Regions from separate parts of the Homo sapiens genome. Here all the other regions are linked to region 3. Evidence: fine-mapped expression QTL. A gene starts in region 3. Each other region holds a variant in brackets. All regions are shown on one strand. Distances are from middle to middle.

Region 1 (8,165 bases), 52 kb before region 3:
TACCTTCTGTCTTTCCCCTGTCTCTGGCCAGCAGTGGGTGGGAACAGGTCTGCATCCTGTGGGCACTGTGAGAACACAGGATGTGGGCGGGAACCTGGCAAGAGTCATGTGCGTGTGTGCATGTGTGTGTGTGCGCACATGCGTGTGTGTGCACCCATGTGTGTGAAGTCCAAATTCCCACAAGCCCTGGCCTGGCCCCTGCTTGCCTCTTCAACCTCAGCTCTCAAAATGCTCTTTTTTATCTCTTGCTGCTCTGGTCATGCTGAACCCTTTCCATCTTTTTTTCAGTATCTCTCCTTCCACCCTTGCTCCAGTTATTCACCTAGGGTATTCTGGGTTCATTGGAAGCACTTATTCAAATTGCAATGCGATAGCGAAATAGTCATTCTGGGGATTCTTTGCTCATGGCCTCCCTGCCCCCATCAGACGTGAAGGCTCCATGAAGGCAGGCAGTGCCTCTGTATTTTCACCACTGTGTATGTGGGTTTTTTGTTTGTTTGTTTGTTTGGTTGGTTGGTTGGTTTTCTTTTTGAGACCAAGTCTTGCTCTGTTGCCCAGGCTGGAGTGCAGTGGCGTGATCTTGGCTCACTGCAACCTCCACCTCCTGGGTTCAAGCAATTCTCCTGCCTCAGCCTCCCGGGTAGCTGGGATTACAGGCGCCTGCCACTACACCTGGCGAATTTTTTGTATTTTTAGTAGAGACGGTGTTTCACCATGCTGCCCAGGCTGGTCTCCAACTCCTGGCCTCAGGTGATCCGCCCACCTCGGCCTCCCAAAGTGCTGGGATTACAGGCATGAGCCACCGCACCCAGCCTTCACCACTGTTATTCCCAGCAGCCAGACCCGCACCTAGCTCGCGGAAGGCACTCAGTAAAGGTATGGAGAGTGAATGAATGTATATGATGGAAGATGTGTGCCTGTGGATGTCTTGGGTAGGCTCAGCAGTCCTGAGGGCTCAGGGTGGGCAGCATTTGGGTCCTCATTGGAGCCTCAGGGCACCCTCCCTGCTCCATCTCCAGAAGAGTATTCCCTCGGGGTCTCCCGGAGGAGTTTGCCCTGGTGCTGACACTACTGCTGAAGAAACACACCCACCAGAAGACGTGGTATCTGTTTCAAGTGACCGATGCAAATGGGTATCCACAGGTGAACCTCCCCTGTGCCCTGATTGCCTCTTAGGGCATTGGGTAGCACCAGTCCAGCCCACCTTTCATCCCGGCTTGTGACTTCTGGGGTCTCCCTGCTCCATCCTGTGCCTACCCTCAAGCCTGTCCCCAGCCCACCAGTACCTACCTCATTCTTTCAGGATGTATAGCTCCTTGACCCCAGCCGGCTTTCTTCTCTTTCTGGGCCTCAGTTCCCCTCCTGTGAAATGAGTTCAAGGTCCCTGAACGTGCCCATGGTGTGACTCTGGAGCTCTGAATCTCTGTCCTTTCCCTTTCCAAATTCTACCCAGATATCCCTGGAAGTCAACAGCCAAGAGCGGAGCCTGGAGCTCAGGGCCCAGGGCCAGGATGGCGACTTTGTGTCCTGCATCTTCCCAGTGCCCCAGCTCTTCGACTTGCGTTGGCACAAGCTGATGCTGAGTGTGGCTGGACGTGTGGCCTCTGTGCACGTGGACTGCAGCTCAGCCTCCTCCCAGCCTCTGGGGCCCCGACGACCCATGAGGCCTGTGGGCCATGTATTTCTAGGCTTGGATGCTGAGCAGGGCAAGCCTGTCTCGGTGAGTGCTAGGTCAGGCCCTGACCTCTGTTCCTGCCTTCTGGGAACCTGAGTGGGCTTCCTGGAATCCGTATCGGAACAAGTCCTTCTCCTGCTTAGAATCTTCCCCTGCTTTCCTGTTGCCCTCCAAATGCAGCCTAAACATATTCACCTGGCATTCAAGGCCCTTCATGATCTGGTCCTTATAAGTGTCTGCAGCACCATCTTCCTTTACATCTCTCCGTGCAGCTCTGCTCTGATCAATTCCATCCTAGCCATCCAGCGCACCCAGTGCTTTCACACTGCCGTGCCTTTGCCTACGCTGTTACCTCCACCTGGAATGCCTTTCCTTGCATACTCATCCGCTGAGTAGCTACCAGCCCTTCAAAGCCCAGCATGAATGGAACCTCCTCCTCTTTTGTTCCTCTGGGCCTCCTCTCCCTCGTTCCTGTGTGCGCAGTTTTGTTCTGCCTTTGGTGACAACTCTATTTTTGATGTCTCCCAGGCCAGACTGGAAACACCCTGAGGTCACATCCTGGGGCAGAGACATCTCTGTGCCTCCTGGGGGGCCAGGACACAGAGCTATTTGATAAAATGAAGTGAAATTGATGTGTGTGTCTCCTGCAGTTTGACCTTCAGCAGGTGCACATCTACTGTGACCCGGAGCTCGTGCTGGAGGAGGGCTGCTGTGAGATTTTACCAGCAGGGGTGAGTGGCCCGGCCCTTGGGCTGCCCAGGGACACACTGTGCTGGAGATGAGGGTCTGGAAGGTGATGCCTGGAGGTCTTAGGAGGAGTCTGCTCCTGTACTGACCCTAGCCCCGCTCTTCCACCAAACAGTGCCCCCCAGAGACCTCCAAGGCCCGCCGGGACACCCAGAGCAATGAGCTCATTGAGATCAATCCACAGTCTGAAGGCAAGGTCTACACCCGCTGCTTCTGCCTGGAGGAGCCTCAAAACAGCGAGGTGGGTGGGCAGGACAGGTGGATGCCAGCACAGGCAGGCACAAGTGAGATACCCCTCCCCTGAGCTGACTGACGTCTGCCACCAGGGTCAGTTGGCCATGGGCCCAGGGCAGGAGGGGCACTGGAAGCCCTCCCTATTTGTACGCCACCCCTAAATGATTCAGGGAGGCAGAGACAGCCCACTGGCCACCACTGGGTGGCCCTGTGCCCACCTACCTATGGGTGTTGAGAGTGGTACCATCTAGCTCTGGCACTGCCTAGACCCTCACGGATGCCATCCAGACTCTTCTGATGAGGGCAGGACCAGGCTTGTCCCTCAAAGCCAGTTTCTCCAGAACAGAGATACCTGGGATCAGAGGTCAGGTCATACTGCTTCCCCCCAGGGATGGCTCACTCTCCTGGGCCCAGCGCCGGCCAGGGCCAGACTGGTTTTACACCCAGCACCATGGCCAGCTGTCTGCCCACTCTCAGGTTCTTTAGAGGTGGCATGGAAGCCTGGTTCCTCCTTTAGCCCCACCCCCTGGCTGGGCACTCTCCCTGCCCGCTCGGGCATCTTGCCCAGCCTTGGGCTGCAGGAACACAGGATCCCATTGATGCATGGTCTTGTTGGCTCTGACATCAC[A/G]TGGGTGGGTGGGGGGGGAAGGAGGGGGACCTGTTGGGGCAGCCACAGGGGCCTGAGCAGGCCCTTGATGCCCCAGGAGGTGCCAGATGCCAGGCTGAAGGATTACCTGGGGCCCATGCCCCCTGCCTGGGTGCCCCTTTCCAGCCTGGACCCCAGAACTTCCCCCTCCTCAAGGGTTTCTCTTTGCTCTGTCTGCCCAGGTGGATGCCCAGCTGACGGGAAGAATCAGCCAGAAGGCAGAAAGGGGAGCAAAGGTAGAGGTGGGGGTGGGGGGAGGAGCCTACCTGCCCTCAGTCTGCCCTCTGTGCCCCTGTAAACCCCAGGGATAAGGTGCTCCACTCCCACTCTCCTCCCGCCTTTCCCACCTCCTGGACAGAGCTTAGGACATGTAGGTGCCAGCTCTGATCAAGAAGGACGGATGGGGGTGAGACAGACGCAGTGCCTGGCACTCTCTAGAGTGCCCACTCCTGTTGGTTTGGGGGTAGGGGTGTTGGAAACAGTGCTCGGCCCCCTGAGCTCCCTGCCCATTCCCACACCCCCCACCCTTTCCTCAGGTCCATCAGGAGACAGCAGCCGATGAGGTAAGCCTCCCAGTGGACTGGCAGCAGGGGAGGTGCCAGCATGAACCCTTTGCACCAGGCTTTGGGCACGGATCCTCAGCATAGGGGTGCTGGCTGACTACACAGCTCCTGGCATTCCTTGAGGGCCTGATGCTGGGCCCTGTCTGTCCACTGCCTCTCGTTGGGTTGGGGGGTAGGTAGCCCTGGAGGACACTCCTGCTGAGTTGGCAGCAAATGGCCACGGGCATCATGGGGAGAGCCCAGCCTTCAGCCACGGTGCCCTTGGATTCTGGGCCGTACTCTGCCCCAGCATGCTGTGTGACCTGGGGCATATTGCTATTCCTCTCTGGGCTTCAGTTTCCCCATCTGAAAAATGGCTGTGGGGCTGGGTGGGTGGGAAATGAGGGGTGAGGCTTGTTTTATAGGATTCCTATCTTCAGGCTCCCCTCAGATTCCACTCAAGATATGTGTGATGTTCTGTGGGCCTGGTGGTGATGGAGGTGGGGAGGGCTCACCCCAGGGGCTCAGAATTGACCTCTTCGCCTGCTCTTCCCTTTCAGTGTCCGCCCTGTGTCCATGGTGCCCGGGACAGCAATGTGAGTGAATGGAGGGTGTGCAGGGTGGAGCGGGCAAGAGCCGGGAGTGGACGTTGCCTAGAGCTGGCTTGGCAGCCTCCTGGGTGAGGACAAGGGGGTCTTTGTACACTTTCACACTCGCTCCCTGCCCATCTCCCAGAGCCGGGCTTAACCCCCACTGCCATCTCCACCAAGCCAGGACTGTGTGGAAGAAAGCCTGTGACCTGCCTTGTCATCTGCAGTGTGTTCGGGTTCAGGGCATGGGCACGGGATGGTGGCCGGCAGGACCAGCGCCTTGGTTGCTGATCGCAGCTTTGCACTCCCTGCAAGTTCTCCCCCTGCCCTGGTGGAGGCTTCCTTCATTCTCCTGGAGGCCTAGAGAAGGGGAAGAGCTGGCTCAGCACGGCAAGGGCTCCCACAGCGTTGGTTCAGGGCCTGCTGTCTCTTTCTAGCTGGCCCTGGTCCAGCCTTCCTATGGGGGTCCAGAAGGGCAAGGAGAGGGGCTCAGTGTGAGCCCAGCTGGCACCCAACTGTGCCTCTTCCATAGGCAGCATGAGTCACCATTTTTCTGGGGCCTAACATTCTGAGTTGACCTGCCACATTGGTCCACCAAGGGCACAACCCCAGCTCCCCTCAGCTCTAAGCCCCCTGACTTTGGGGGACATCAGGAGTACCTCCTAGGCTCCCTGCTCCCTCTTTCAATCCAGTCCCCCACCAAATCTGTTAAGACTGATGGTCCCCAGATGTGCAGAGGTTACCATGGAAACCAAGCAGCCATGTTATCCCAGCAACTGGGAGGCGGAGCTAACCAAAGCCAGGCAGTTTAGAGGAGGTAGGTTAGACCCTCTGCAAATGTTACAGGCTGAGGAAATGGAATCGGCTTGCTAGTTTGCCTGGGAAGCAGAGCAGGGGCTGGGATACAGGCTGCTGGTCCTGCTACCATGCTGTGTGACCCTGTCTAAATTGCTTGACTTCTCTGGGCCCCTGGTTTTCTCTCTCTACCGGAAGTGTGATGCCCTCTCCTCTGTCCCCTCAGGTCACACTTGCTCCCTCTGGCCCCAAGGTGAGTCCTAATGGAGAACGGGACATTCCCGTCCTCTTTAGCATCCCCAGCCATTCCCACAGCATGTGACCCTGTGGCTGTGTGTTTCTATCAGGGCCACCTGAGCCTGTATGTGTGTAGGGTGATTAAGTGTATGCGTGGTAAAGAAAGCAGGGGTTTGTGTGTGTGCAAAGATGCTAAGAGCTGCCCTTTTCTGAGGCCCTTCTGTGCACCAGGCCTTAGGCCACACCTATGCACACTTATTACCCTTTTGAACCCTCTCAATAGTCAGCCTGCAGGGTGGGTGCTATCATTTTACTTCAGGGGAAACTGAGGCCCAGCTGTGCCCACATATGTCTGACAGGGTGTGTTAGAATGATTATGTGTGGGTGTGGCTACATGCATCTCTGGGACACATGTTTGCATATGTGTGGCACACGAAGGCTGGAGTTGAACCCATATACCTGTGGGCCTAACGAGGCTGCAGAGCTTGTGAGTGATGGGGAGCGAAGCTATGCAACTGTGAGTTGTGCTTGTGTGTGCTCGTCAATACCGTTTTATTGATGAAGAAACTGAGGCTCAGAAAGGCGACATGACCTGCTCTGAGTGACATGCTAGCAAGTACAGGATTTGAAGTCAGGCAGCCTGACACTCAGCCAGCATGGGTTTCTGCCACCGTGCATGTGTGTGTCCATATGCCTCCGGCTGTGCTGTGTGTGAGCTGATGTGCTTGGGTACGGGTGTGGGGGATGGGATACCCCCCTGCTTGAGACTGTAGATTTGCCAAATATAGCATCTTGGGGTGGGAGGGCATGTGGATGAACAGGTGTGGAATCCATATGCTTGTGTGTGGTGGGGGGAGGCGTGGGGCAGGACACTGCTCACATGTGTGCGTATTTGCGTACCCGTGTGTGGGGGGATGGGTGGAGGGGGCCAGAAGTGGGGAGAGCTTTCTCAAGGCTCCCATGTGCCCCCTCTGGTCCTATCTTCCATTCTGGTTTCACTCTCAGGGAGGGAAAGGTGAGCGGGGCCTGCCTGGTCCACCAGGCTCCAAGGGAGAGAAGGGAGCACGGGTAAGTGTCCCAGCCCTGCCCGTGGCAGGACCTTTGCCAGCTGTGCCCTGGGGTGAGGTGGGATGTGAGCCATCATCCCATCATCCCGGCAGAAAGCCTGCAGCTTGGCCCAGATCACGGGAGGGGGGTGAGGGCCAGGGTCTTTCTAGGGGTTTGGGTGTAGAAGCCCCCCTTTTCTAGGGATACTTAGGACTATGGGGTTCCCGGGCCGATCCTCCTCACAACACATCTAGGGGACTTCCCCAGGAGTTCCCACCCCTGATCCCTTGTTCCCTACTCCCAGGGCAATGACTGTGTTCGAATCTCCCCGGATGCCCCACTTCAGGTAAGACTTGGAGGTGATGCCTGCTTCAGGGCCAATATGGGGCCAGCCCCTGGGGAGGGACTGTGCGCTTGGCAGCCCATCAGGTGACCCTCTGCCCCTCTCAACACTGTGTTCCCCTGTTCAGTGTGCAGAAGGCCCGAAGGGAGAGAAGGGGGAGTCAGGAGCTCTGGTGAGTGTGGGACCAGGGATAGGGCAGGGATGGTGGGTCCAGGGCCCAGCCTTACCCTCCCTTCCTCTGTCTCCCTTCCTCATCTCAGGGACCCTCAGGACTCCCAGGCTCAACAGGCGAGAAGGTAACAAGCCTGGATTTGGAGGGGGGATTTCCAGGGAGGTCTGCAGGCTCTACAGCCATGAGGAAGGAGGAGTCGGGGTTCTCTGAGGAGAGGGTGTCAGTGGGCACAGAGCTGGCAGGACCCTCCCTCCCCCATCTCCCCCACCCCAGTCACCCTGCCTCGTCCAAATACCCAGCCGACCTAGAGGGAAATGCCACAGATTCCCCCAGTAAGTGGCCTGGCTGGTTTGGAAGTTCTACCTGTTGTCTGGTCTGTTGTCTACCCTCCCGTGGTGATTGAAGCCATTCACCCTCAGGGGAGACAGAGACCAGGGGTCTAGAAGGCAGTTGTCCCTCCACCAGATGGAGCTGCCCAGCTGTCCCAGGCCCTTCCCTCATCCTGGTCACTCTGCTTCTTCCTTCCCCAGGGCCAGAAAGGCGAGAAGGGCGACGGAGGCATCAAGGGCGTGCCGGGAAAGCCAGGCCGGGACGTAGGTGCCTGGGACCCTTCCCCACCACAACCCACAGCACGGGGTCTGAGAATGCTGGGATTTAACCTTCGGGAATCCAGCCCCCTCCCCTTGCTCAGACAGGGTGGGGAGGGGCTGTGCCACAGGAGGCACAGCAAGAAGGGGACAGAAAAGGACCTGAGCCCAGGCCCCCTCACTCCCAGCCTCAGAGCCCCGAACCTCTAACACCATAAGGTTGACATGTGCTGACCTTGGGGCACCAGGGTGGGCTCTGGTTTGGGGGAGGGGCAGGGAGGGTGGGACAGGTGGGCATTCACCTCTCCCAGTGGGGCGGTGCCAGGCCTCAGGGCTGTTTGTACACCCTCCCCCTTATCCCCCCACAGGGCCGGCCAGGAGAGATCTGTGTCATTGGGCCCAAAGGGCAGAAGGTGAGTTGTGGATGTTTGTGGGGTGGAGATGGGGTGGCAGGGCTGGGGTGGCAGCTCTCTGATGCCCACCTTATGTCTGTGCCAGGGAGACCCTGGCTTTGTTGGGCCTGAGGGGCTGGCAGGAGAGCCTGGGCCCC
Region 2 (8,175 bases), 30 kb before region 3:
CTGGGAGTCTGCTCTAGTGAGCCACTGTTGCCGATGGGAGTCTCTGCCAGGATCCCAATTCTCTCTACCCTATTGGAAGTGCTGAACTAGAGCCCACGCCACATATTTGCAGCCACACATTTGCCGAGTGTCTGGGGCTTTTGGGGCTTCCTGCCACACTGCCAGGAAACAGGAATCTGTCTGCAGAGGGCTTGCAGTTTGCTTGGGGAAGTGTAAGAGTCATTTCAAAGTGACCCATTAATAAGCGAGAGCTGATGTAGTGTAAACCCTGCCAAGACATGCTGGGGAATGAGGCAGAAAAGAGTGACTGCTGAGTCTGGTCCCAGGCACCAGAGTCCTTACCTAGTGCCAGTGCTTGAGACCAAGCCGAGGCTGCTGCTCACAGGTACCTGCCCCATGCCAGGTGGGATGCAGGAGGGCCAAGCAGCTCCTTTATTCAGGTATAGAAACAGGCTCAGGGATGTACAGCACTTACTCATCCAAGGCTGTATTGTCCCAGTGCTTAGTTATCTCATTTCATCTCAGTCCATTCCACAGAGGAGGAAGCTGAGGCACTGAGGTTAAGAAAGATGCCTGAGGCAACTAGTAGGTCATTGAGCCCAGCTTTCAATTCTGGCTGCACTTCGCTTCCGCAGTAGGACAACAGGTAGAACATTTAGTTCTGAGAGGTCAGGAAAACAATTACAAAGTATCAGGCTTGAACTATCACACTGGCCCTGGAGAGGGGAGCAAGGGATGAATAATGATTTAAGGCATAATAATTAACATGTTCGGGCCAGGCGTGGTGGCTCACGCCTGTAATCCCAGCACTTTGGGAGGCCAAGGTCGGCAGATCACTTGAGGTCAGGAGTTCGAGACCAGCCTGGCCAGCATGGCGAAACCCCGTCTCTACTAAAAATACAAAAAGAATTAACCGGGTTTTGTGGTGCATGCCTGTAATCCCAGCTACTCAGGAGGCTGAGGCAGGAGAATCGCTTGAACCCAGGAAGCGGAGGTTTCGATGAGCTGAGATTGCACCACTGCACTCCAGCCTGGGCGACAGAGTGATACATCTCAAAAATAATAATAATAATAATAAATAAAAAATAATAATTGACATGTTCAAGGCATTTTCCCTGTGCCAGGCACTGCTCTAAGCCCTGATGGTGCACAGAGGTGCCAGGGGGCCTGGATGGTGGCTGGCTCCGGGTCTGACCCAGGCCTGGTAGAGCCTGCCTGGAAATTGCTCGGGGGCTGGTGATATGTTCCATTGCTGGGAGCTGGGACTTGAAGGAAGGCCAGATCTCAGAGTGCGCCAAGGAAATCCTGTGCAGGGAGGAGCAGGCTGAGCAGCGGTGCATTCACTCAACACGTACTTACTGCACATCTCCTCCATGTTGGGTGCTGGGGATTCAAAATGGAACATACTCCCTGCCTCCATGGAGTATTTAATATGCAAATGTGCCTCACGAATCTGCAAGGGGAACATTGTCCGGGTGGCATGGATTTAATGTAAACATCGTTGCAGCCATTGTCTCCTTGAAGCCTCACCATAAACTATCCCTGTTTTATAGATAAGGCAACTGAGGCATAGAATTTTTTTCCCCCAAATAAATTGCCAAAAGTTATACAGGTAGTCAGAATTTTGTATCTAGATGAATCTGACTGGCAAGTACCCACCCTTGCTGTGTACATGAATGTTCTGGGGATGTCTGTTGAGGAATGATGCTAGAATTGTGGTTAAGAGAGGGGTTAGAAGCCAGTGATCCTTGCTCTGGACCTCAGCTCTGTGCCTTGCTCAACTTGTGACCTTTGGCAAGTTACTTACTCCTCTGGGTTCTTTTTTTTTTTTTTTTTTGAGACGGAGTCTCCCTCTGTTGCCTAGACTAAAGTGTAGTGGCGTAATCTTGGCTCACTGCAACCTCCATCTCCCAGGTTCAAGTGATTCTCCTGTCTCAGCCTCCCGTGTATCTGGGACCACAGGCACACACCACCATGCCCTGCTAACTTTTATATTTTTAGAAGAGACGGGGTTTCGCCATGTTGGCCAGGCTGGTCTCGAATTCCCGGCCTCAGGTGATCCGCCCACCTCGGCCTCCCAAAGTGCTACGATTGCAGGTGTGAGTGACCGTGCCCAGCCTCCTCTGGGTTCTTTGTGCTATTTTTAAGATGGAGATAACAGCACCTAGTTCAACAAGATAGCTGTGATGATTAAACGAGAAAATAGGCTGGGTGTGGTGGTTCACGCCTATAATTTCAACATTTTGAGAGGCTGAGCGGGGAGGATCACTTAAGCCCAGAAGTTTGAGACCAGCCTACCAGCGAGACCTGGTCTCTATAATAAACACAAAAGAATTAGCCAGGCATGGTGGTGAGCGCCTCTAGTCCCAGCTACTCAGGAGGCTGAGGTGGGAGAATCGCTTGAGCTGAGTTTGAGGCTACAGTGAGCTATAATTATGCCATTGCACTCCAGCCTGGGTGACAGAGTGAGACCCCGTCTCTACAAAGAAAAAAAGAAAAAAGAAAAGGAAAGGAAAAAGAAAGAGAGAAAATATAGAAAAACGACTTAGCACAGAAATAAACAGTAGTTCCATGGAAGACCCTCTGCTCAATTTCTGACCTTCCCTCTGATGTGGGGGGAAAACACTTGCTGTTGGACGGTTTGGGGGGTCGCTCTTCTGGGCCTCCCTGGCTTTCCCTATAAGGGTCGAGAGGCTTTTGAGCTAAGAATAGATGTCAGCCTTGTGCCAGCCAGGGCTCTCAGCTCTGCAGGACAAGGGGAAGAGGAGGCGGGGATGATGAGAAGGAAACAGGCTGACCAGCAGGCTAGAGAGATGGAGCCCACTCACTCGTGTCTCTTCTTGGCTACAGGGAGTGCCTGGAAACAACGGTTTGCCAGGACAGCCTGGGCTCACTGCAGAACTGGTGGGTACTGGCCAGGACTCCCTGTGCATGCCCCTTCCCTGCCCTTCCCAGGGCTGCTCAGGCTATGAAGCTGGCCCGGTAGCTGCAGTGGGGGTCCCTCTTCTCTCCCACTTCTGAGGCTGGAAGGTGCATGACGTGTCCCAAGGCTCTCCCTGATCCCATAAGTCTCCATGTTCCTTCCCCTCACCTGCTTGAGCCCACACATCTGTCTCTTGCAGGGATCCTTACCAATTGAACAGCACCTCCTTAAGGTAAGAGGGTACCCAGGAGGGAAGTGTGAGCTGGCGGGGGTGTCTCCTAAGGGGATTCTCTTAGTAAGTGCTCAGCTGTGTGGCACCTCGCAGAGAGAGCAGCAGTTTGCAGGGAATACGCATTCCAAGCATCTGTCTAAGAGGGCCTAGCTGATGCCTGGCTTGTAACAGGCCCCCAGGCAACATTTGCTGAATGAGTGCTTAAAGGAATCCTGTGAAGGTGCCCACATGGCAGATGCTGTCGGCAGAACCCAGCCCTGAAGCCTGCCCGCAGCAGCTGGCAATGAGACCCCGTAGCACCCGGGTCACCCTGCGGCAGAGCCCAGCAGCTTCCAAAGCAAAGCAGAGGGGGTGAAAGTGCAGTGGTGGGGGGCTGTGAGATTGGGTGTGGCCTGGAAGAAAGCTTCAGCTGTTCTCTAGTCAATCCAGAAAGAATCCAGGGAGGAGATGGATTTGAGAAGCACTTCTGGTAGTCTAAGAAAGGGGACTTCGGACCTGGTCAGAGGGTCGGCCTGTGCCAGGGCCTGTACACAGCCTTAATGCTCTACCAGAGGGCTGTGGCCTGGGCCGGCTTCCCAAACTGAGCAGAAGTTCCTATTGGAATCAAGAGTCACATAGCCCATCTTTGCTTAGTCACCTCTAGAAACGAGAGCACAGTAATTCCCCAGGTTGCCTTCAGGTTTTTGAAGGAGGCCCTTATGTTCCTGGACTTTCTCTCCTCTAGCCCAGCATCCTCAGGGGTCTTTCCCATGTGTTGGCCTCCAGAGCCCCCCCTCATCCTGGCCACCCTCTTCTGACACTGGCTAATTAGTGCCCTGGACATCCCATGACCCCGATGGGCCTTGGTCAGGGCAGAGCATGGGGGCTGTCTACCCCTTCCCTGCTCTGAACGGCAGATTTCTCCAGAAGCAGCCAGAGGAGGTCGGGGTAACCTCTTGGCATCAGTTACATGTTGGATCACAGTGAGGTTGTGGCAACGAAACCCCCAGCTCTTCTCCCCTCTGCTTCTGTCAATGACTGGGCAGTGATCGTGTGACTCCAAATCCAGGATTTGACATTTCTCCTGTAACATTTCATCTGTTGGCTTCTTCATCAAGTGCTCTTCAGAGGATTCCAAATAGAAAGTGCGCATAGTGTGGAGAAGGGGTCAGATGGCACCCCGGGGCATGCTGACCCAGAGCCCCAGCCACCACCTGCACCCATAGTCCAGGAAGCCTGGGGAGAGAGCACTGGCTGTGGCCTAGGACAGGCCCACGCCAATCCAGGCTCCCACTTTCCTTAGACAAGTCACGCCGCCTCTCTTGAGTGGGCTTTCCCATCTCCACAATGCTTATAAGATTCCCTGTCTCACTGCGCCGTCAAGATGGCATGTGATAATGTGCAGGGCTTATTATGTACAATGCCCAGCGTCATGGGTGCTGAGTAAATGCCAGTCGTTATTACTGGGCTTGGTGGTGAGCAGTGAAAGTGAGCAGGGGCTCCTGCCTGGGCATCTGTGGACACGACACTGGCCACAAACAGGCTCCGGGCTCCTGAGTCCTCAGAAATTGCAGGCTGGTTTTCACTAGTGGGTTTGATTTTTCTGAGAAAAGGACCCATAGCTTCCATCAAACTCTCAGAGGGGTCTGTGACCCAAAGAAGGTTAAAGCCCTTCCTGTGGGGAAGACAATTCTGGTGGCGCGATCCGAGCCAGGAGCCTGTGAGCAATCTGAGATCTGTCCCAGGGGCTCCTGGGAAGGGCCTGGCTCCTCCCGCAGCTGTTCCTTTGCTCCCTTGGGCAGAGAAGCTGGCGTTCGGAGCCAGCCTTTCCAGCCTCACTCCTCGTGGCTTGTCCTCGCAGTGGGTGCAGGTTGCAGGAACAGCCGGGACAGATGGTCCCTCTGCGGGCCCCTCGCCTCCACCCACATGCCTGTC[T/C]GGAAAGTGGCTTTGGCTTAGCTGTACCAGAGCTTCTTCCTGGAGGAAACTCAAAGCCAATTGTTGGGAGTGGGTCCCCCGAGGATGGAGCAAAGCTGCCGCAGGGATGCGGCTGGGGAGGGAGGGAGTGTGGGAGGAGGGAAGACGGCAGGGCAGGGAGCCCTGGCTCTGGGTTCTCACTGGGGCTCCCCAGTTGGCCCATCCTGCCCATCTCTAACCCAGGCCCCACTCCTCTCCCCACTCCCTGATCAGAGTATCTGCGGGGACTGTGTCCAGGGGCAGAGGGCCCACCCAGGGTACCTCGTGGAGAAGGGAGAGAAGGGAGACCAGGGCATCCCTGGTGTGCCAGGCCTCGACAACTGCGCCCAGGTAAGGGACTGGGCTTGGGGCTGCCCTATGCAGGAGGGTTCCCTGGCTGCCTCATCAGACAATGTGCCTCTCATTGTCCCTTGCAGTGCTTTTTGTCACTGGAGCGCCCAAGAGCCGAGGAGGCCCGGGTGAGTGCCTCGCCTTATCTCCCCCGATCATGCCCCATGCCCCACAGGGACAGGCCCTGACTGCTCACTATCACCGTCTCCATCCTTCTCCAGGGTGACAACAGTGAGGGAGATCCTGGCTGTGTTGGGAGCCCAGGCCTACCTGGTCCTCCGGGATTGCCAGGCCAGAGAGGAGAAGAGGTAAGACCAGGGATGGGGATTCATCCTCAAGGGAGCTGGGGCCCTGTCTGCCTTTGAGACCTCTTGGGGGCCTCCGAGGCCTCACCTGACTGATGCCCTTTACCACTCTGGGCTCATCTGCTCTCCTGGCACGTGGCTTCTCTGGGATACACAGGACCCAGCGTAGGACACACTCTTTCTCCCCAGTGCCCAGCTGCATCCTCTGCCTGCAACGCTCTTCTCCAGGGCTTATTCCTGCACTCCTTCAGCTCGGCTCAAATGTCTCCTTCTCAGAGAGACCTCCCCTGACCACCCTCTTTAAAATTGAACTCCACACCAACCCCAGAGCCTCCAGTCCCCTTGGCCTGCATCATACTCATCACCATCCAACATCCTGCCTATTTACTTCATTCAGGAACATTCTACAGGTGTCAGCTCAACACCAACTATGTGCCAGCTCCTGTTCTATTTGTTAGTGTCCGTCTCTCCCCTAGAATGTAACTGCTTTGAGGCAGGGGTTTTTATTTATTTTGTTTATGCTGTGATCCTAGCCCCTGGACTAATGCCTGGTACGTAATAGTTGCTTGTTAAATGTTTGTAGGATGACCGAATGGGCCAAATGAAAGATTGTTCGAACATCAGCTAAGTGGTCCTGCTTGGACAGCAGCCACCCTCTGTTGACCTTGGCCCTGGCAAGCTGGGAGGAAGGCTGCTGGAATCCCAGGGGCTCTATGGGGCCTGGGCCTCTTCATCCATTTCCCTTGGCTTCCTTTGCAGGGTCCGCCTGGCATGAGGGGCTCCCCGGGTCCTCCAGGCCCTATCGTAAGTATCAGTGGTGCCCTGGTCTGCTTGAGAAGCTCTCAAAGGGGTCATTACACTCAGACACCATCCCGCGGCCTTGTCCCCAAAAGGCTGGGCAAGGCAGGAGGAGGGAACTTCCACTGCCCTCCCCATCCCTCCGCAGAGCATCTGCAGGGACTGTGCTCTCCCACCACCGGATGCCCTGGAACCGCCCTGCTCTGCCTACTGCCTGCGGTCCTGCTTAGGGGAGGTCCTCAGAGGCACCTCTTTGCTTCCCTGTCCCCACCCTCTGCTGCGCTTTCCACAGTGGCCCCAGGCCGCCCTCGGCAGGGGGCCTAGGCTTCAGGCTCACAGCCTCCCAACCAGGGAAGCATGCGGCATGCTGGCCAGACCTCTCCATGCCCCTGTGACTCCAGTCCCCACAAGGGCTCGGGGCTAAGATGGAGCTGTCCTCCATTGCTCTGTAGGGCCATCTCTAGGGTAAATCTACAAAAACCAGACCAGGGTATCTACTCTGGAGTCCTCTGTGATGTTGACATGGCAGGAAAATAGAAGTGACTAGGAAAGATTGAAAGAACTGAAAATGCTTTCTCTGGAGAAGAAAATGGCTGGTGGGAGCTGTCTTAGAGCCAGGGAGCCCCCCACTCGGGGGACAGGTGGAGGTCGGGTGGCAGGCATGGTGGGCAAGGCTGAAAGAAATGGGCTTCTGCTGCAACCGGATCTTCAGTTAGACTCCGGAAGACTCAGGAAGCCCTCTGACTCTGGAGCCATTCCGCATCTCCGTCAACGGAGGAGCCATTCTTCCTGGAGCCAAGGGGAGGAACAGTTGTCTTTTGAGCCAAGACTTTCAAGGAGTCTCTTTTCCAGCTGCCTTGAAAATACTCCCATGACCTCCTCTCCCCATGACCCCCAAGCCCCAGACTGTGCCCTCCAGGCTGTCCCAGGGTTACTGTGCCTGTGAGATGTGACCTGCCTGTTTCTCCCACCAGGGCCCCCCAGGTTTTCCTGGTGCTGTTGGCTCCCCCGGATTGCCTGTAAGAACCTAGCGCTGCTCGACCTCCCCTCCCCCCCGTCAGCCAGGTCTCTGTGGCTTTTGCTTGTCTCCCTCCTGTCGTGCCTTCACCTCCGTCCTCCGTGTTTGTTGTCCCCCTTCAGGCACGGTAGCTAACGACACGGGTTCTCTGAGGTCCCGGCAGCTTGGACATCCTCCCAGTCTCTGACTCCTTTCCGTTTTCTCCTCTCCCTCCTCTCCTGCGTTCTTTCTCTCCTCTTCTCTCTCTTACCCCGTTCTGTCTTCCTTCTCCATTTCTCGCACCATCTTGCAGCACTCCCCCAAGTCCTCCTGAGCTCGTGAACCTTCCTCTTAAGCTGGTGCCTCTAGGGGGCCCCTCCATTCCTGCCTTCTCGCTCTGCCTCCTGCTTCTCACCACCTTCGGCGTTGCCTGAAGATTTGCTGAAAGTAGTTCTTGGGGCCCTGCCAGGCACCTGGCTCAGAGCCCAGCAGAGATGCCAAAGCTTTAGGGCTTCACATTGCAGGCTGGCACAGGTTTGCTGCCCTGCTGCTTGGCAGGGCTGTCCAGAGGCACCCAGGGATTTAAAGGCAGCCCTTCCTGCGCCTTTTCCGTCGTCCTAGAGGAAACTCTCAGCTG
Region 3 (8,175 bases):
CACTCAATACATGATAATAATAACTACTAACATTGAATTCATGCTAGGCACTATTCTAGGTGCTGAGGTTAGAGGACTACATAAGAAAATGACAATTCTACAATATACATGTAAACAAAGTGGACAATTCAACTAGTGACATGTATTATGAAAAAATAAGATAGATGATGGGAATGCTTGGGGGGCAGTGTCAAGAAACTCCCCCCACCCCAGGTGATATCTGAACTGAGACCTGGATGATAAGGAGAAGCCAACCAGTGAAAAGTCAAGGGAAGACTATCCCAGACAGAGGGAAAAGCTAGTCCAAAGACCTGGAGGCAGGAATGAGCAGGCAGTCAGAGACCAGCCAAAGCCAACATCCAGGAATGAGCTCTGTACATTCCAGGAATGGCACAACCAGGCCGGCATGGCTGGAATGAGGCAAGGGGGACAGCAACAGCAAGAAATGAGGCTGGAGATGCTGGTATGTGTGGCCATGAATGTCATTAGGATGAGTTTAGCTTTTATTATAAGAGTGATGGGAAGTCCCCAGGGAGTTGAAGCCAAGGAATAAGATAACCACTCTGGCTGCCTGTGGAGAAAATGAAGCGTGGGGAGAAGAGTGAGAGCAGGAACATTGGTCAGTCGGCTATTGTAGTGATCCAGGCACGGATGATAGTGTCTTGGACTACAGTGATAGTGCGAACAGGGAGAAAAGAGCAGATGTGTACATGTTTGAATTAGAGCAAATGGAGATGAGGGAGGTGAGGGAGTGTGTGGAGAAAAAAAGGACACACAGGAATGATCTTAGGTTTTTGGCCTGAGAGACTGGGTGGATTTTCTGAGATGGAGAGGAATGGGTTTTGGGGAAAACACCAAAAGAAAACTCTTATACAAGGCAGGCTGGAATACCACACAGTGACAGTACCAAGTGCAAAGGGGGAGTGGCAAGAGAGAGTGGCTAACTCTGGAGCTAAGGGGAATGTGGGAGGGTTAGGTGGAGAATGGAATTGGAACTGAGCCTTGCAGGACTGGAGTTGGGAGGGCTGCTGGTCCAGGTGAAAGGAGTGGTTTGAACCTAAGTTTGGGGCATGAGCAGGTATAATAAGCTCATTTTCAAATTTACACATTTGTTCCTGTCAGCTAAGAAAAGTGAAATTTAGAGAGGTTAAATAACTTGCCTAAATAAAATGTGGTAGATATACACTGTGGAATACTATGCAGCCATAAAAAAGGAACAAGATCATGTCCTTTGCAGGGACGTGGATGGAATTGGAAGCCATTATCCTCAGCAAACTAACAGAGAAACAGAAAACCAAACACCGCATGTTACCACTTATAAGTGGGAGCTGAATGAGGAGAGCACATACACCACTGGGGTCTGTCGGAGCGTAGAGGGAGGTGGGAAGAGGGAGAGCATCAGGAAGAATAGCTAATGGATGCTGGGCTTAACACTTGGGTGATGGGATGATGTGTGCGACAAACCACCATGGCACACATTTACCTATGTAACAAACCACATCCTGCTCATATACCCCTGATCTTAAAAGTTGGAAATTAAAAACAAACAAACAAAAAACCTGCCTAAGGTGATACAGTTAGAAAGTGATAAAACAAAGATCCTCCCTCCAAAGCAGAAGTGCTGAATGGTGGAACTGAGCACAGAAATACAGAGTAGCAGAAGGGGCCGTAAGATTGGAAAGTTGAGGCTGGGCCAGATTCTGAAGGGCCTGGAGTACCAGAATGAAGAGATTGGGCCTTATTTTGTAGGCGTGGATGAAGAGCATCCATTGTAGGCTGTGTAGTGGGCAAGTGGCATGATCAGCACTGTGATTTTGGAAAGTGCACTTGGTTAGATAGATGGACTAGACTGGATAACAGTTCGTAACATTCATTTATTCATTTATTTTAATAATCGTGTCAGTCGCTATACTAGGTACTGGAGTTATAATGACAAGCAAAAACAGACAAAACCCTAGCCCACATGAAAGAACTTGACAAAGAAATCAAATAAGCACACAAATAAGTGTAGAAACGGAACCACTGAGTGGCAAGTACATGGTGCTGAGATCACTCGGTCACCAGGATTTGACCTACGATGGGGACCGACCTAGACCTCCCTGCTGAGAACTGGACATCCATTGACCCCGGTTCTAGGCGACCCACTGTGAGCTAGGGCAAGGCAACTGCCTCTCTGCACCTCAGTTTCCCCATTTATGAAGAAAGAGGCACTAGATAATTCAATTTTCCTCCAACTCTAATGATCTGGGGTTTTTTTCTCCAAAGACCACAGATCTGTATCCCACTACAAGGGTACTAACTGGTACCCAGTACCTTGACATTAGAGGAGTAATTCCGCCATCGCCTCTCCCTACCGGGAAGAGTCGGTCGGTTCCCCGTTGTCAGGGCAACCGCCTGGCCACCGCCCCTCGTCTCCTTTCCCGCGGCTCATCTGCGGAAACTCAGGAGCTACTCCAGCAATTACGTCACTATCATGCGTCCCATTTGCCAGGTTATAACATGGCTACCGCAGCAACACCCCACCCAGGCTTCTCACTAAATTTCCCAACCTGACCACCTCTTCGGCCCACTCCACCTCAGGAAAAGGAGGAACATTAGCGCTGGTACAGCCGCCAAGACTTCCGGAAGCTCCATCAATCACTTAGCTCCCCTGGTCTCTCGGGTAGGCATCCGCCCACCGCCCCCATCGTCACTTCCGTCGGCCGACAGCACCCAAGATTGACAGGCGCGGACGTCCAATCAGATGCGGGCCCAGCCCCAAAGCCGAGACGAGGGGCGGGTTTGAGAGCGGAAAGCCCCACCCCTTGCCTGAGTGTGACGTCAGAATCACCATGGCCAGCTATCCTTACCGGCAGGTGAGTGTGTGAGGGGCCCGCGAATCCAGGTAGCGGCGGTGCCAGGCGCAGGCCCGACGTCCCCCTGCTCTTTCTCCCCGCTTTCTCCGCGCCCTTCCCACGATGGGTTCGCTTCAGCGAGGCCTTGCGCTGTAGAGAACCGAAAAGGGACCGTCGGTCGCGCCCTGCTCACGTCATGAAGGACCGCACATTCGCGAGGTCGTGTCGCGCCCCCTTGACGTCGCTCACTCGAGGATTTGGGGACCTTGGACCCCACAGGTCCAGGCTGGCGCTGGCCTGGGCTCCACAGCCTCCCAAGGCCCTCATGGGGGCCTTGGGCGGGGGCATCAGCCATGACCGGAGGTTTAGAGTTCTGGTTCCGCCGATCTCATTTGGGGCGTCGGATAAAAATCCAGGCTTCCGGACCCACCCCACACTGCATCAGAGTCATCAGGAAACTCTGGTTGTAGCAGGCGCCACAAGTGAGCTGGTTTGACCACTGACTTAGTTCAACACCGCCATTTCGCGTGTAGAAAAGTGAACCCCGAGAAGACACAGAACTTACCTGAAGTCACCAGGCAGTTAGGCAGCAGGGCCGAGGTCAGAACCCGGGCTATCTTCAGATGCCTCTTCCCCAGCGTATCTTGATTCAGTCAGGAATACCGCAGCAAGGTGATTCTGTGGCCAGAATTCTTTGTTGGGTGATAGTAGGGTGTTGAAGTGCACTTTGGTGTCAGAGGTAGGTTCATATCTTAGCTCTACCACCTAAATAGTTGTGAGCCCTTGAGCAAGCTGTTTTGCCTTTCTGAGTCCAAGTTTCCGCCTGTAAAATAGGGCCGAATAATAGGATCTGCCTCATAAAGCTGTTGTGGAGAGTCAGGAGGTGATGCTTACGAAGCGTTTGGTACATAGTGAGGTGTAACATGTGTTGCCCTTTAGCATTTTGATTTTTAGTAGACTTCTAAAAGGCCAGTGCCCGGAGGGTCCTCAAAATAGAGCCCTCATTTTACAGAGGAGGAAATGAAGCCCACAGAGGGCTGCGATCACACAGTTATTTAGGAGATGAAATCCATAAACGAAATGTGGGAAAACAAGATCAATTGGTATATTACACAGTGCTCAACTGAGTTTAGTCACAGGCCAAAAGATGTAACAGTCCTTCCAGGGAGTGCAGTCTTGTGCGGGTTACACAGTGTTTGGACCTCCATTATCCTAATCATGAAGTCCCTATCGGCATGCAGGTATTATTACCCCTAATTAACTGCTGAGGAGCAAACCCAAAGAGGTTAAGTGGCTTCCCAAAAGTCACACGTAGTAAGTGAGGGTGAGGCCATGACCAGAGCTTAGGACTTCTCTTATTGCATCCTTAGAGAGAGGTAGGAAAGAGAGAGGCCAGTGCGGGCTGGAGTTAGGAAGTGTAGCATAGCAGTTGCTTCCTAAAGTCCATTCCATTTGCTGAGTCTTGGGAGGTTTTAATAGATATTGTTAATATAGGAGGATTCTGTAGTTAACTAAAGTTTTGGAAATACTCTTAAGTATAGCTGAATAAGTTTATTGACCACAAGCTATTTCAGAATCCTTAATTTGCTAATGTACATTGTAAATCATCCAGAAAGGAATATAATATGCAGTATTTCTTAAACATATCTAACCATAGAAACTCCGCCTCCCGGCTTTCTTTTCAGATGTCTGGTCACTTTTTTGACTCTAGTATTTCTGAGGAACACAGGCTGAAAAAACATTCATAGCGCCTTGTTTCCCAGTGGCTGGTCTTCTGCCTCAGAATCAGCTGAGAGCTTGTTTAAGAAAGCACACTTTTGGGTCCCACTTCAGACCTGTTCTGTACCCAGGAATCTACATGCTAATAAGCATTAGGGACAATTGGTGTGCATCCTAAAAGCAGTGACAGGTTAGAGAGAACTGTGCTAGAATTCTAGCTGTATTACTTAATAGTTATATACCCCTGGACAAACTAAGGGCTCTGAGCCTCAGCTTCCTCACCTGTATAAAGGGAGAAATAATACCTGTGAAAAGGGCTAAAATGAGGTTAAAATGCAGGGAGCCTGGCGTGTTGCTAGTGCCTAGTACATGCCAGTGTCTGGTGGCAGCTCTTGCTGCCGTGACTGCTCTCATGATGCCATGCTGCCTGGGCTATTCCTGGAGTGAAATACTGAAAAGGAGCACAGAGAGAAGAGTCTGGAATAGAAAAAGAAATGTTGTTTTTTTTTCCTACCATACCCTTGTCCGCCTCCTGGTCTCAGGTGTTCTAAGAAAGGAAACGAGTTGTTTTAAAGCATCTCAGTCAGTGCTGCCTCCCCTCCACCCACTACATAGCTTTGGAGGATTCCAGCCTATTGTTAGGAGTCAGAATTCCTGTAATTTTCCACTGCTTCCAGTCCAGGGTACCCAAGCAGGGACTGGGTATTGGAGTAGTAAAATTCAAGCACCCTTTGGTCCTATGGGGGAACGAGCTTGGTGGATTTCAGTGCTTAAGAGCTTAGTTTTTGAGGCCAGAGAGAGTTGATTTCAAATCCCTGCTTTGTCACTCCCTTGCAGAAGTTTGTTGCAAAAGTCTGAGACTCAGTTTTCCCTTTTTTGAAAAAAATTTTTTATTTATTTGTTTATTTTTAAGACAGAGTCTTGCTCTGTCGCCCAGGCTGGAGTGCAATGGCACAATCTTGGCTCACTGCAACCTCCGTCTCCCGGGTTCAAGCAGTTCTCCTGCCTCAGCCTCCCAAGTAGCTGGAATTACAGGCGCACGCCACCACACCTGGCTAATTTTTTGTATTTTTAGTAGAGACGGGGTTTCGCCATGTTGGCCAGGCTGGTCTCAAACTCCTAACCTCAGGTGATCCACCTGCCTCAGCCTCCCACAGTGTTGGGATTACAGGCGTGAGCCACCACGCCTGGACTAGTTTTCCCTTCTTTAGAATGGGGTCATAATAGTATCTACCTCAGAATTACTCTAAAGATTAAATGAGAAAATCCACGTAAAGTGCTAGGTATGGTGTTGGGCATGTAGAATACTCCAAGTGGAGGAGTAATGCAGTTATGCAGATTGAAGAGGCAATGTGATAAGTATTCAATGGGAGTAAGTGTAAGGTACAGCACGGGAGAGTGAGATACCTAACTCAGTCTAGGGGTGCATTTTTAAAAGAGGTGATATTTAAGCCAACAACTGAATCACTGGTAGAAATTAGCTGAGTGAAGAAAGGAATGCTATTCCAGCAGAGGAAATAGCTGCACAAAGCCCATGAAGCAGGTAAGACAGCCTAGTATTTTGGAGGAACTTTAAGAAGTTCAGTGTAGTTGTAGTGATGTGGGGGAAAGGGGTAGGAAATAAGACTAGAAAGGTAAGCAAGGGCCAGATCCCAAAGGGCCTTGTATGCCTTTTTGGGGAGTGTGACTTCATCCTAAGAGTAGTGAGGGAGCCAGTGAAGTGTTTTGTCCCATTTGTGCTTTGGAGTGCTTACTGTGGGGTGCTGTGAGAATGGATTGAAGCAGGAGAGACAGGAGGCAGGGATACCGGTTTTGACGCTATTGAGGTAATCTAGGCTAAAGAGAACTGTGACCTGGTAGAGGAGATTTGAGAAGCACTTGGGAGGTAGATTTGAGAAAACTTGGCCTTAGGTTTGGATGATTAAGCAGAACGGAGCTCCATTCACTGAGATGAGAACACAGGGAGGCATGGGTTTGGAGGGAAGGTCCAGTAGGCTGCTGGATATGTGGGTCTGTAGCTCAGGAGTGATGAAGCTGGAAAGATTTGAAAGTGTGAGCACAGAGGTAATTGAAGTCTGGGGATGGTTCTTGGCTCATTGTTTATTGGTTGCGTGCTTCTCTCCTATTTCAAGTGGCTCTGCTGGTGAATGCTTGAACTGTTCCTCTTGTCTTCCTGTGATTGTTTAACCCCTTAGTTTGGGCTTCCCACCTCCTCCTGTGCACTTGAAGGGTAGCTCTGGGGTACAAACTTGTCTTTGCAATGCTCCCTCCTCCATTCGTCATCAGGGCTCAGCTTGGAACAGCCGTTGATACCTTTAAGCTTCACAGGGGTCTTGAGGTTAGAAGACTTGAGTCCTCAGAACTGGAAAGAAAAAAAAAATACCGGACTTTCTGAGGTGGTTATTTGGGAGGAGGTAAGCTCCCTACTGCTTGCGCAAGTGCAGGTAGAGATTCCAGGTGGTTCTGCAGAGATTCCATTATTAACTGAGAGGTTGAACTGAAGAGTCTTTGGGGTGTCTTCCAAAATGTGGCTTGGCTCTCAAAGTGACTCTAGGTGCTGGGACGAAAAAGAATGAGATTTTTCTAAGAGTCCCTGATTTCTGGGCTTGAAGGCTCTGAGAGATCACCCAATCCAGCCTTCCCCTCTACCTCTGTCCACAGTAGAAATTCATTATATTTGACAAAGACATTTAGCACAGTCCCTCACACAGACACATGCTAGGCACTCACTCATTTATTGAGTGAACAAACAGAAGGGGGTAGTGTAGAGTCATGCAGACCCTGACTTGAATCCCAACTTGCCCATTCTAGCTGCATGATCTCAGGCATGTTATTAAACTCTCTGCCCCTTAATTTTCTCATCTGCAAAATGGAGATGACACTGTTTACCTCACAGGACTGAGGATTAGTGAGAGCTGGTTGAACTGGAAGCACCTAGCAGAGCCTCAGTAAATGTTTGTTGCCCCCAGTCCCCCCAGGGCATCAGATGTAGCTTATTTGCAATCAGCCAGAGCCCTAGAGATAGTTTTTCTGTGTTGCTTCAGAAGCTGCAGTTACTGAACTCTTCCTGTCCTTCCCCTCCACCTGCCTTCACAATCCTGTTTATCAGTATGAAATAACTCTTGGAAAAACTCTAAAAAGGGCTGGGAGCATGGAGTAGTGTAAAAGAACGTGGAGTCAGGGATGCTGTTTTTCATTTCTGGTTCAGACCTTTGCTAACAACTCAGTGACACTGGGTGACCCTCTGTGAGGTGGGGACCACCTCATCTTCTTCCCCAAACTTCCTGTGCAGCCTGCATTCTGTCTCAGTTGGCTCCACCTCCTTCATCTTGTGCAAAAGCTAGAAACCCGAGTCATTCTGAACACTTTCCTCACTCCTCCTCCATCTCTTTCCTAATCTAATTAGTCACCAAGTCATGTCTGGTCTATCTCTGAAATAGCTTCAGAATCCATTCCGTTCTCTTCATCCCCAAGTGTGCTGTCTGGTTCATGCCCTGCCTGCCCAGCACCTGGGCTACTGCCTCCCTCACTGGCTCATCCTCCACACCGCCGCTGGTTACTTCTCTAAACAAGGTTCTCATCACGTTCCTCTCCTATTGGAAACCCTTCTATAGTGCTCTGT

Alleles and levels. Alleles are on the strand shown, and positions count from the first base shown. SD is a standard deviation of normalised expression in the study named.
For the expression in prefrontal cortex of the gene that starts at base 3,560 in region 3, A is the low allele of the variant in region 1 and G is the other (small effect, 0.28 SD a copy in BrainSeq).
For the expression in cerebellum of the gene that starts at base 3,560 in region 3, C is the high allele of the variant in region 2 and T is the other (large effect, 2.2 SD a copy in GTEx).

What was found.
Region 1: its variant is fine-mapped to the expression of PEF1-AS1 in prefrontal cortex (BrainSeq, PIP 0.95).
Region 2: its variant is fine-mapped to the expression of PEF1-AS1 in cerebellum (GTEx, PIP above 0.99). The same link has a PIP of 0.9 or more in cerebellar hemisphere.

The regions. Positions count from the first base shown.
Region 1 is chr1:31,691,461-31,699,625 of GRCh38, reverse strand. It overlaps COL16A1 (collagen type XVI alpha 1 chain), which reads left to right. Exons shown (of 71, transcript NM_001856.4): 5 at 1,020-1,143; 6 at 1,454-1,720; 7 at 2,326-2,406; 8 at 2,538-2,663; 9 at 3,485-3,538; 10 at 3,839-3,865; 11 at 4,405-4,440; 12 at 5,456-5,482; 13 at 6,472-6,534; 14 at 6,818-6,859; 15 at 6,984-7,028; 16 at 7,117-7,152; 17 at 7,559-7,621; 18 at 7,984-8,028; 1 more. Among named protein-coding and RNA genes, the nearest start is that of COL16A1, 8.5 kb to the left of the region's middle. RefSeq lists enhancers at 1-510, 2,655-3,164. The variant A/G (reference allele first, on the strand shown) is at 3,285.
Region 2 is chr1:31,669,987-31,678,161 of GRCh38, reverse strand. COL16A1 (collagen type XVI alpha 1 chain) reads left to right here. Exons shown (of 71, transcript NM_001856.4): 43 at 2,851-2,904; 44 at 3,123-3,155; 45 at 5,322-5,438; 46 at 5,525-5,566; 47 at 5,660-5,746; 48 at 6,503-6,547; 49 at 7,516-7,560. LOC101929444 (a long non-coding RNA gene) reads right to left here. Exons shown (of 2, transcript XR_001737631.2): 1 at 7,810-8,175; 2 at 7,095-7,330. Among named protein-coding and RNA genes, the nearest start is that of PEF1, 29 kb to the right of the region's middle. The variant T/C (reference allele first, on the strand shown) is at 5,070.
Region 3 is chr1:31,639,521-31,647,695 of GRCh38, reverse strand. It overlaps PEF1-AS1 (PEF1 and COL16A1 antisense RNA 1), which reads right to left and starts at 3,560. Exons shown (of 6, transcript NR_184313.1): 1 at 3,400-3,560; 2 at 2,850-2,984. It overlaps PEF1 (penta-EF-hand domain containing 1), which reads left to right and starts at 2,820. Exons shown (of 5, transcript NM_012392.4): 1 at 2,820-2,855. The coding sequence starts at 2,832. RefSeq lists enhancers at 2,351-2,690, 2,931-3,000, 2,320-3,090.